Linked DNA regions of Homo sapiens. The protein of the gene in region 3 purifies or fractionates together with the protein of the main gene of each other region. This does not show direct contact. Each region holds a gene or a part of one and is shown on either strand. Other genes may lie near its edges.

Evidence for each region.
Region 1: the proteins of DDX50 (region 3) and ZFP91 purify together in Homo sapiens (affinity purification with mass spectrometry; one large-scale study listed by BioGRID and IntAct). This does not show direct contact.
Region 2: the proteins of DDX50 (region 3) and PINX1 purify together in Homo sapiens (co-immunoprecipitation; one large-scale study listed by IntAct). This does not show direct contact.

Annotation. Positions count from the first base shown.
Region 1 is NC_000011.10:58,610,063-58,613,915, forward strand, and holds part of ZFP91 (E3 ubiquitin-protein ligase ZFP91), read left to right. Parts: intron 1-235; coding exon 236-272; intron 273-887; coding exon 888-992; intron 993-1,541; coding exon 1,542-1,676; intron 1,677-2,215; coding exon 2,216-2,266; intron 2,267-2,699; coding exon 2,700-2,778; intron 2,779-3,853. UniProt on the Homo sapiens protein: Atypical E3 ubiquitin-protein ligase that mediates 'Lys-63'-linked ubiquitination of MAP3K14/NIK, leading to stabilize and activate MAP3K14/NIK. It thereby acts as an activator of the non-canonical NF-kappa-B2/NFKB2 pathway.
Region 2 is NC_000008.11:10,822,876-10,826,375, reverse strand, and holds part of PINX1 (PIN2/TERF1-interacting telomerase inhibitor 1), read left to right. Parts: intron 1-131; coding exon 132-224; intron 225-932; exon of another isoform or gene 933-1,003; intron 1,004-3,500. UniProt on the Homo sapiens protein: Microtubule-binding protein essential for faithful chromosome segregation. Mediates TRF1 and TERT accumulation in nucleolus and enhances TRF1 binding to telomeres. Inhibits telomerase activity. May inhibit cell proliferation and act as tumor suppressor.
Region 3 is NC_000010.11:68,914,815-68,918,314, reverse strand, and holds part of DDX50 (ATP-dependent RNA helicase DDX50), read right to left. Parts: intron 1-3,500. UniProt on the Homo sapiens protein: ATP-dependent RNA helicase that may play a role in various aspects of RNA metabolism including pre-mRNA splicing or ribosomal RNA production.

The DNA.
Region 1 (3,853 bases), on a different chromosome or scaffold from region 3:
TGTTTACTAACTAGTTGCTGTTACATTTTAAATGTAATGTTGAACATTTGTGTTAACAGCTTAACTGTCAGGGGCAGGTTTGATGGTGTAGGTGGTATTTCTTTGAACAGTTTGCAGATATTCTGCTTTTGTATAATTACCCCATGCAGTAATTTGATTTGCATTTCTTGACTGCAGAGAGAAAATATCTTATATCTACACTAATAAAATTTTGTTTTTGGCTTTGTTTTTCTAGATGTTGGAGAAGAGCATCAGTCTCCAGGTGGCATTAGGTAAAAAAAACATTAATATTTCATTTTTAAACCTTTGGGGACATAGCATAGTCACAGTAAATGATTCAGAAGTTGCTTCCATTTGAAATTATTTTGAGCTGTAAGAGAAATTAACTTCAGTTTTGATACTGCATTTAGATTCCATGTTGAGCTTGATTAGAACTTAAACCATGTAATCTACTTACATAGCTTAGAAATCATGTCTTGAGTATCTTCTGTGTTTGGACTTATTCCATGGTAGGCACTAATGTGAAATATGGGTGTTTTGGCCAAGGTTTTGAGATTTTATTGGAATCTTTTGTGTTGTGATTTATCTGTTAGTAGGTCTTTTAATATAGCAGATCACCAGACAGTATTACAAAGTCAGTTGTTTCTTAACTTTTAATGCCATTGAGTTGTCATCACCCTGTCTTTATCTAGGATTTATGTCTTTTTAGTTTCAATTATTATTCTTTGTGATAAAACAGCTAGATTTCAGTCCAATTAGGTCATTAGGATGAAAATGCTAGATGACTTTATCAGTGTTTGGCTACCTCTTAAAAAATTACCAAATAAAATCCCCTCAGACATGTTCGCTACAACCAGAATGTCTCATTTCTATTTACTTATTTTTAGTAGTGAAGAGGAAGAGGAGGAGGAAGAAGAGATGTTAATCAGTGAAGAGGAGATACCATTCAAAGATGATCCAAGAGATGAGACCTACAAACCCCACTTAGAAAGGCATGTCTCAGATTTTACTGCAGACATGTTAATGAAATATAAGTAGGAAAGCACTGTTGCATGCTTTTATTTTATCTGTTGCCAAGCTAATGGGTATAGAATTAATTTTAAATGAGTAATTAATTATGCACTTCTTTTGTAAGTCTAACACCTTAATATACCCTGATAATAATCCTCTTTCCCATTTGTAGAACTTTATTTTGATTATATACAAGTTTTTATGAGTCTGCATGTTTTATTTCAACAAGGTATCATGAATTGCCTGAATACTTAGAATTTTTTAACTAATTGTCTCGTTTCTCTTTACAATTATAGTGAAATTTGATTTACAGGCATCTTTAGTCTGGGGAGGGTTCATTCCATGAGCAACATATACATATATTTGGATCATTACTATGCATGTGAGGATGATTGGTAGGAAATCACATTTCATGAACTGAGGAAGGTAGTTTTATAACAAATCAGTGATAACTCTAAGCTTTAATTTGTTGTCATAGTCTTCCTTGAAAAGATCTTTTGTCTAGTATTGAAATGCATTTGTGTTTTCAGGGAAACCCCAAAGCCACGGAGAAAATCAGGGAAGGTAAAAGAAGAGAAGGAGAAGAAGGAAATTAAAGTGGAAGTAGAGGTGGAGGTGAAAGAAGAGGAGAATGAAATTAGAGAGGATGAGGAACCTCCAAGGAAGTGAGTAGGCAATTATTAAAAATGAAAATCTAACAGATTTTGAACGACTAGTGGAAAAAAGAGTGGGAGTGTGAGGAAGGATGTTGACGTATACATGCTTCAAAATATGTATTTTTTAACTTAAAAAAATTTGGCCTCAAGCAGCTGACAATTTCACTGGAGAGACTCTTAGTAAAAAAATGTTTAGGTTTTTCAGTTCTATTGCAAGGAGAAGGTATTTTTTAATCTTAGTGTTTTTAGATGATACATGGTAGCAACTCTAAAAGTAATACATTGAGATTCTTCTAAGTCTTTCATAGTATTGCATAGTTTATGGAAGGTATATATTTAATCTGTCTTACAGACTGATTTGAAAGTGAAATTACTTCAGGGTAAAATTACTTGCTTGATTTGCCAGATATATCTTTGACTTTATGTATTCTTGGTTATCCTTTGCCACTTGTTCTTTGGCCGTGTGTGTGTGTGTGTGTCTTCAGCCAGCCTTCACTGTGTAGTTTTGATTCAGAATATGTCTACTGTTACCCTGTCTTCAATTACAGGAGAGGAAGAAGACGAAAAGATGACAAAAGTCCACGTTTACCCAAAAGGAGGTGAGGAATTTTTACCCCTACTGTTTTACACCTTATTCCAGTACCAGGCACTTTACTCACAAATTTAGACTTCATGATAATCCTGCAGGAATGGCTATTTAAAAATTTCACAAAAGCAACTTCACTAATGTCCTAGATGCACAGGTGTTATGATCTTATTTTCATTGTAAGAGCTTGAAATTTCTAACAATCTTAATACTTTACCTTTGGGGGGTCATTAGTTTATTTGTGTTACTTTTTAATTCTGTCAAATATTTGCTAATTCTTGGTTACTTCTAATACAAATTCTGTGTAATCTGTATAGTAGTAAAGAGATTTTAATTCTTCCTACTATAAAATAGCTATTCCCAATAGCACAGTTTAAGTCAGAGGCCACTGTGCAGAGTACCACTTTTTTTTTTTTGCTAACTTTTCTTCTGCATTTTGATAATAGAAAAAAGCCTCCAATCCAGTATGTCCGTTGTGAGATGGAAGGATGTGGAACTGTCCTTGCCCATCCTCGCTATTTGCAGGTCAGTGAAGTTGTTATATAAGAGCCTTTCAGGTTGTGTTCCATTACTTGTTCTTGCACCACGAGACTTTAATTTGTTGGCTTGTGTAGGCTTTATCATTGACATGTAATGTCAAGAAAAGTCTTTCTTTAAACATAAAATGACTTTAACCCATTTATGCCTAGTGTTCCATTATTAGAATGCTAAGCTTGGGCAAGTTATTTATATCCTACTGTTCAAGGTCATCACCAAGGTCTGATTTTTCACAAAAATACATTTGCAACCTCCAGCATAAATGGGTTAATCATGATTAGTCCATTTGTGCTGCTATAATAGAGTACCTGAGACTGGGTAATTTACAAAGAACATATATTTATTTATTAGCTTGTGGTTCTGGAGACTGGAAAGTCCAAAAGCATGGTGCCCACATCTCACAAGAGCCTTTTAACTGTGTCAGCCCATGGTGGAAGGGCAAGAATGGGTTGAACTTGCTTTTGTAACAAATCTACTCCAATGATAATATCAACCCATTTATATAAGGGTAGAGCCTTTAAGACCTAAGCACCTCCCATTAGGTCCCGCCTTCCAACACTATCACATTGGGGATTAAGTTTCCAACACATGAACTGTGGTGAACACATCCAAATTCATAGCACCTCCTGTTTAAAAAGAGGTGACTAAGAATCTGAACCCACATAGAGAACTTTCGTTGGAATCTTTCAATATTACAGTAATTCCCAATGTGGTGTAAATACAGAGTAACATTTTATTTTAAAGTGATTTAGAAAAAAAGTAAAATTAGAACTCAAACCTGTGATTTCTTGGGTACTGTGTAGAATGAATAAAAGACTTTTAGTTGAGGTTTTGTTTTTATTTTTCTTGAGTAGATTATTATTATTATTTTTGATGAGTAAACGTACCACTTATATTTAGGTCTGGCAGGAAACGTGAAAGTGAAATACTGCTTAGGAAATACCTGTTTGATCTTCAGCAACAAATATAACATGACACGAAGGCCTTCTTCTGGATCGTGGTTCAGTTATAACAATAGCCGCTCCTCCTCTGCTGTGTGCCATTTGCTGCTCTAAAGCACAGT
Region 2 (3,500 bases), on a different chromosome or scaffold from region 3:
CAAATGAATGAAAGAGTTCAATCATTAATGATAGGGCTCCTAAAATTTTCTTTCAAGACTATCCACTGTTAGGAGAATAAATGAGATTGGATTAGAAAGACTTTAATGTATTTTTTTCATCTTTTTTAAAGATTCCTCGGACAAGAAGGAAAAGAAATCTTTTAGCCTTGAGGAAAAGTCCAAAATCTCCAAAAACCGTGTTCACTATATGAAATTCACAAAAGGTAAGATTAAGCATTTCTTTACTTGTTATTGAAATCTACGTGTTTGTCCTGAGTTGCTTGAAGCATTTTAGCTCTGGGCCAATAGCGACTTCATGCTTTATGGACAGCTCCGACTGCATTGCTGTGAAACAGCGCTGGAGTCTTCGCATTGACTGTGGTGTGCCTGAGGATCTTGTTAGAATTCAGATCTAGGAGATCTGAGATGGGACCCAGATTAGGTTTTAGACTGTAAACAAGTCCTGTGGCTGAGCTAAAAAATGGAATCAGCTTATATTTAGAGGAAAACGGGACTTTATGTAGCTAGGTCAGAAAATAATTTTAATTTCTTGCCCAACATTTTTAGCTGCATGGTGTTTTTTCACAGCTGAAAGTTGGTGTTAAATAGCTTTTAATACGCCAGGTTAGAGAATTATGCTCTATATTGATACCTCCAGTGTGATAAAGCACACTCCCTGGTTGACCCTTTATTCCACGTAATTTCTCCATTTCACAGCGTAGGCATTCCATAGTCATTGCCAAGTCGGGTAAAAAGCCGTTTGAGACCTGGGTGAGAATTCCTATTCCTTCATCACCACCTCCCTAGCCCCTTCCCAGTATGTGAAATCATTTGTGCATGCGGTTGTTGTCTTCAGCCACTAGGTGGCGATCTTGCATTGGAAAGAAGCAATTTAACCTAATAGAACCAACTCCCCAGTTTGTCTGTAGAACAGTATCATGAATTAGAAACCTACTTATTACATAGTTTACATAAGAAGCGTGATGATGCTGCTGATGCTGTAATATCTAGTCTCTGTTGATGGTTCTTTCCTGGGAGGTTGGATGTGTTTCTACCTTGATATGCCAGGAACAGCACATCTCTGCTTTGGTCTTCTAGGAATGTCATGCGTATCAGGGCATTGCTGGGAAGCTCTTAACTTGTACAGCCAGCCTGGATAGCAGTGGGAGCTGGAATCCCCACTACTCTGAAGTATTGATGATGCTTTTCATTTAGGGCCAGGAGCCCAAAAGTGAGGGCTGGGTTTGGTTGAGGTGAGAGGCCGTGGCAGAGCTGAGTGGATTGGGGATTGTGTGCAGGGAGAGGCTGGGCCTCCCTTCCCTCTCCAGCAGCCGTGGCTCTTCCGCTTCCTCCGTTCTTTCTCTCACATGGAACTTTCTTGGCTGTCGCCCGTATCCCTTCTGACTGGGGTTCTTCTCCACCCCAGCGTGCTATGGAACAGAATACAGGCTTCCTTGGCCCTCAGTCCTTTTGAAGAGAGGGTACATGCTCACTTCATACCCAGTCCCTGAAATAGCATTTCTTCTTTCATTAGACTGTAGAGAAAAACTAGAGATCACAGAAGGTGCTGTTGCAGAGCAAATTAATAAAACTCAGTGACCTGTAACTTTCGGATGATGTGGCAGCCTTTTACGCTTTCACTTTTACAGGTAGAATCTTCTAATTTTCCTTTGATGCCAGACTGCATGCATGATTTCATCTGAAGCATTTGCTGAGGCTGGGATAAGCCTCTGTAATCTGCTTTAATCTAATGGATGCCGGGAGCATCTGCTTTCTATTTCTAGTTAAGCCACTCCTTTGCTGGGTGACCCTGTGAGACCGCTGAGTGCCTCGTGCCTTCGTTTTCTGTCTTCCAGCGAGGGTTCTGTATCTATTAGCCTTGCCTGGGGAGAAGAGGGAGTCAGTATGCAGAACAGAAGGATTCTCGGATCTATTGTCAGATTGCAGAGAAGAGCTGGAGTGGAGACGGGAAGGACATGCAGACTGGGCCTACGTAGGAAAGGGAGAAGGAAGCAAAAGTCCAGGGAGTGAGGAAAAGAATGGTTTATCAGCTAGCTTTCCAATCACGGTGCACACTTATTTTAAAGTTTCCTCTAGGGTGGACTATCTTAGATCACAGAAAATCTCACTCTGGCCATTACTCGCTCAGACAAGTCACCTACCCATTTCCCTTCAGACTCAGTTTCCTCTTTTGTAAAATGTGGATACATTTGTAAGTGACTATTAAGTTCTAAGGTAGGTTCTGTTTTATGATTTATTAGAAATGACCCATTTCATGGAACTTTTGCTTTTTCAGCATTGTAGATAATAAAGATTTTCGCCAGTGGGTATGCTGATAACGACTGTAACTCATTCACTTAGTTGATGAGGATGATTCATATTGCAACTCATGTATCGTCCAGGAAATCAAACAGGAAGATGCAATTGTACATAGCTTGGGAAGAGTGAAGATTAAAATTTTACTCTACTAAGATTACAGTAGCAAATAGTGTTGTAAAATTTGCTACTGCCTAAATATCAGCTGTATCATTATTTTTATTTTTATTTTGAGACAGGATCTCACTCTGTTGCCCAGGCTGGAGCACAGAGGAACAGTCTCAGCTCACTGCAGACTTGACCTTCTGGGCTCAAGTGATCGTCCTGCCTTAGCCTCCCAGCGTGCTGGGACTACAGGTGTGAGCCACTGCACCTGGTTGGTTATATCGTTTTAGTTCTGATATATAATTATTCCTTTCCCTGGTCCTGAGTTTATAATTCTAACTTGAGCTAATTTATTGTATAATTTTAAATGTCAGTTTTATCATACTTATTTAAAGGCTCAACTCCAGCTTGGTTTGTAGTTTTTTGTATTTTTTTTTAATGCAAAAGGTCTCTGCAGATAGAGGCTATATCTGCAGAGGGGAAAATGTCAATCGATACAAAGCCATTTCTGAGGTTTTCTGACTGGATGGTGAGACGTTGGCAGGAGAGCAGGAGAGCAGTGCTTCCTCCCCTCAGTTATGCAGTTGTTGGATGAAAGTTGCATAAACTGTAATTGTGCAGCTTTATCCTGGGAATCTTGCAGACTTCTTAATCCTTTTGAGAGTTTGGGCTATTTTATATGCTACTGAAACAAGGAAACTACATGCCTAACGCATGTGCAGGTGCTCGGCTTCCTGGTCGGGAAATACAGAATTGGTATTCACAGCGCAGTCAGCCCCGCCCCTCAGTTGCACACTGGTAGTGAGGAGCATTCAATCTCCTCTTCTGATTCTTTTGACATTTAAATAAATATCAGGTAGCACCTGGTAGGTCTGACCTGTGTCACTCACACTGACTCTTTCCACTTTCCTGGTTTATGGTGTCTTTTAGTGGAGTTACCCTTATCTTCTGCCCTCGGTTGACTGCCAGTTCTGTGTGTTTGCCATTTAAAAAGATAAAAATAAAAGTATGTCATTTTATTTGTCCTTCTTGATTGAATAATGCAAATGAATTTTCTAAACTATTGAAGCTACCTACAT
Region 3 (3,500 bases):
TGTATACTTTAAAATGGTTAGTTTTAGTTATGTGAATTTTACCTCAATTTAAAAAACTGTAAATATGGCACTCTAGTTAAAGATATATATAGGCAGGGCGCAGTGGCTCATGCCTGTAATCCCACCACTTTGGGAGGCCGAGACGGGTGGATCACCTGAGGTCAGGAGTTTGAACCAGCCTGGCCAACGTGGTGAAACGCCATCTCTACTAAAAATACAAAAATTAGCTGGGCATGGTGGCAGACGCCTGTAATCCCAGCTACTCAGGAGGCTGAGGCAGGAGAATCGCTTGAACCCCGGAGGCAGAGGTTGCAGTGAGCTGAGACTGCGCCACTGCACTCCAGCCTGGGCGACAAGAGTGAAATTCCATCTCAAAAAAAAAAAGATATGTATGTTAAAATACTTACGGGGAGGCCAGGTACAGTGGCTCACACCTGTAATCCCAGCACTTTGGGAGCCGGAGGCAGGTGGATCACGTGAGGTGAGGACTTCCAGACTAGCCTGGCCAACATGGCAAAACTACATCTCTACTAAAAACACAAAAATTAGCCGGACATGGTGGCGCATGCCTGTAGTCCCAGCCACTCAGGTGGCTAAGACAGGAGAATCTCTTGAACCTGGAAGGTGGAGGCTGCAATGAGCTGAGATCATGCCACACTGCACTGCAGCCGGGGCGACAGAGCAAGACTCTCAAAACAAAAACAAAAACACAACACGAACAAACAAGAAAACCCACCACATCTTTGAGTGGTGTTAACAGTAAAAAAATAAGGAAAAATAAAAACCACAGGGATGCAAATCAGCAAAACAGACTGTGGGAAACTCATAAGGCAAATGAGTTTTTTTGTTGTTTTTTGAGACGGAGTCTCACACTGTTGCCCAGGCTAGAGTTCAGTGGCACGATCTCAGCTCACTGCAACCTCCGCCTCCTGGTTCAAGCGATTCTTCTTTCTCAGCCTCCCAAGTAGCTGGGACTACAGGCACGTGCCACCATGCCTTGCTAATTTTTGTATTTTTAGTAGAGACAGGGTTTCACTATGTTGGTCAGGCTGGTCTCGAACTCCTGACCTCAGGTGATCTACCATCCTCGTCCTCCCAAAGTGCTGGGATTATAGGTGTGAGCCACTGCGCCTGGCCAACAAATGAGTTTTTTCAACAGAAAATTGCAAAGAAAAAAAAAGGAACTATAGATTATAAAATGTTTAAGACGCATATCAATCAGTAGCAACGTCAAGAATTGTATTTGGATCCAGATTCAAACAAACTATTTAAAAAAGACAGCAAGGGCAATGTGCACACTAGGTATTTAATGATATTAAAGAATTACTATGCCAGGCGCAGTGGCTCACGCCTGTAACCCCAGCACTTCGAGAGACCAAGGCAGGCGGATCACTTGAGGTCATGATTTCGAAACCAGCCTGGCCAACATGGCAAAACCCAGTCTCTACTAAAAATACAAAAAATTAGCCAGGTGTGGTGGTGGGCGCCTGTAATCCCAGCTACTCAGGAGGCTGAGGCAGGAGGAATCACTTGAACCAGGGAGGTGGAGGTTGCAGCGTGCTGAGATCACACCATTGCACTGCAGACTAGGCAACAAGAGTGAAATTCCATCTCAAAAAAAATTACTGTTTTTCTTCTACTGATAATGACTGTGGTTTTAAAGAGCCCTTAGTTATCATTTTGGAAATACATACAATTACTTGAAGATAAAATGATGACTGGGATTGTTTCAAATGCAGGGGTGAAGAAAAGATCATTGTTAAAGACTGGTAATAGGTAATGGGTATATCATGTTCTTTATACTATTCAATCTTTCTATTCAATTTACTATTCAATTTTATATGTTTGAAAATGTTCTTATCAACTGTTTTTTACTATACATTTTACATTCTTACTGCAAAACTTTCAACCATTACAAAATAAAAAAGCTTCTTTTTTCTTATTCTTTTTTTTTTTTTTTTGAGACAGAGTCTCAATCTGTTGTCCAGGCTGGAGTGCAGTGGCGCAATCTCAGCTCACCGCAACTATCACCTCCTGGGTTCAAGCAATTCTCCTGCCTCAGCCTGCCGAGTAGTTGGGACTACAGGCGTGCGCAACTATGCCCAGCCAATTTTTGTATTTTTAGTAGAGAAAGGGTTTCATTATGTTGGCCAGGCTGGTCTCGAACTCCTGACCTCGTGATTCACCCGCCTCGGCCTCCCAGAGTGCTGGGATTACAGGCATGAGCTACCACGCCCGGCCCACAAAGCTTCTTTTTACCATCCAGCATGCCCCTTCCCAGAAGTAATCATTATCTGATGTTTATTCTTTCAACCTGTGTTTGTATATTTACATAAATGCCTAAGGAATCCATTTAGCACTATTTATTTTTTAAAATAGTGTAATTTTTGTATACATCATTGTATAATTTGGTTTTTATCACTGATTGTTTTTAACCACTGCATTACATTCTGCAGATACTACTATTCACTTAGTCACCTAGTCTTTCCTACATACACATATATATGCATCTATTAAATAGAAAGATGACATGTTACCTAGTTGCCTGTCATAAATACGGTAAATATTACCTTTAGTTCTTTTTTCTTTTTTTTTTTTTTGAGATGTTGTCTCACTCTGTCTCCAGACTGGAGTGCAGTGGCACGATCTTGGCTCACTGCAACCTCCGCCTCCCGGGTTCAAGCAATTCTCCTGCCTTAGCCTCCTAAGTAGCTGGGATTACAGGTGCGGGTCACCACACCCAGCTAGTTTTTGTATTTTTAATAGAGACGAGGTATCGCCATGTTGGCCAGGATGGTCTCGATCTCCTGACCTCGTGATCTGCCCGCCTCAGCCTCCCAAAGTGTTCAGAATACAGGCGTGAGCCACCGCACCCAGCCTTTTTTTTCTTTTATTTTTTTTTGAGACAGAGTCTCGCTCTGTCACCCAAGCTGGAGTGCAGTGGCGCGATCTTGGCTCACTGCAAGCTTCACCTCCCGGATTCACGCCATTCTCCTGCCTCAGCCTCCCGAGTAGCTGGAACTACAGGCGCCCGCCACCATGACCGGCTAATTTTTTGTATTTTTAGTAAAAATGGAGTTTCACCGTGTTAGCCAGGATGGTCTCGATCTCCTGACCTCATTATCCGCCTGCCTCAGCCTCCCAAAATGCTGGGATTACAGGCGTAAGCCACCACGCCCGGCCCTAATTCTTTTTTTAAACATACCATTGGTTTAACTTTCATGGAGTCAAAATTATAAACCTTTTCCTTTATGGATTCTTCTTCTGACTTCTGTGGTTTTTTTTTTTTTTTTTGAGACAGGGTCTCCCTCTGTCACCCAGGCTGGAGTACGGTGGCGCAATCTCAGCTTACTGCAACCTCCACCTCCTGGGTTCAAGTGATTCTCATGCCTCAGCCTCCCAAATAGCTGGGACTACAGGGGCCCGCCACCAGGCCGGCTAATTTTTCTATTTTTAGTAGAGACAGAGTTTCACCATATTGGCCAGGCTGGTCTCACACT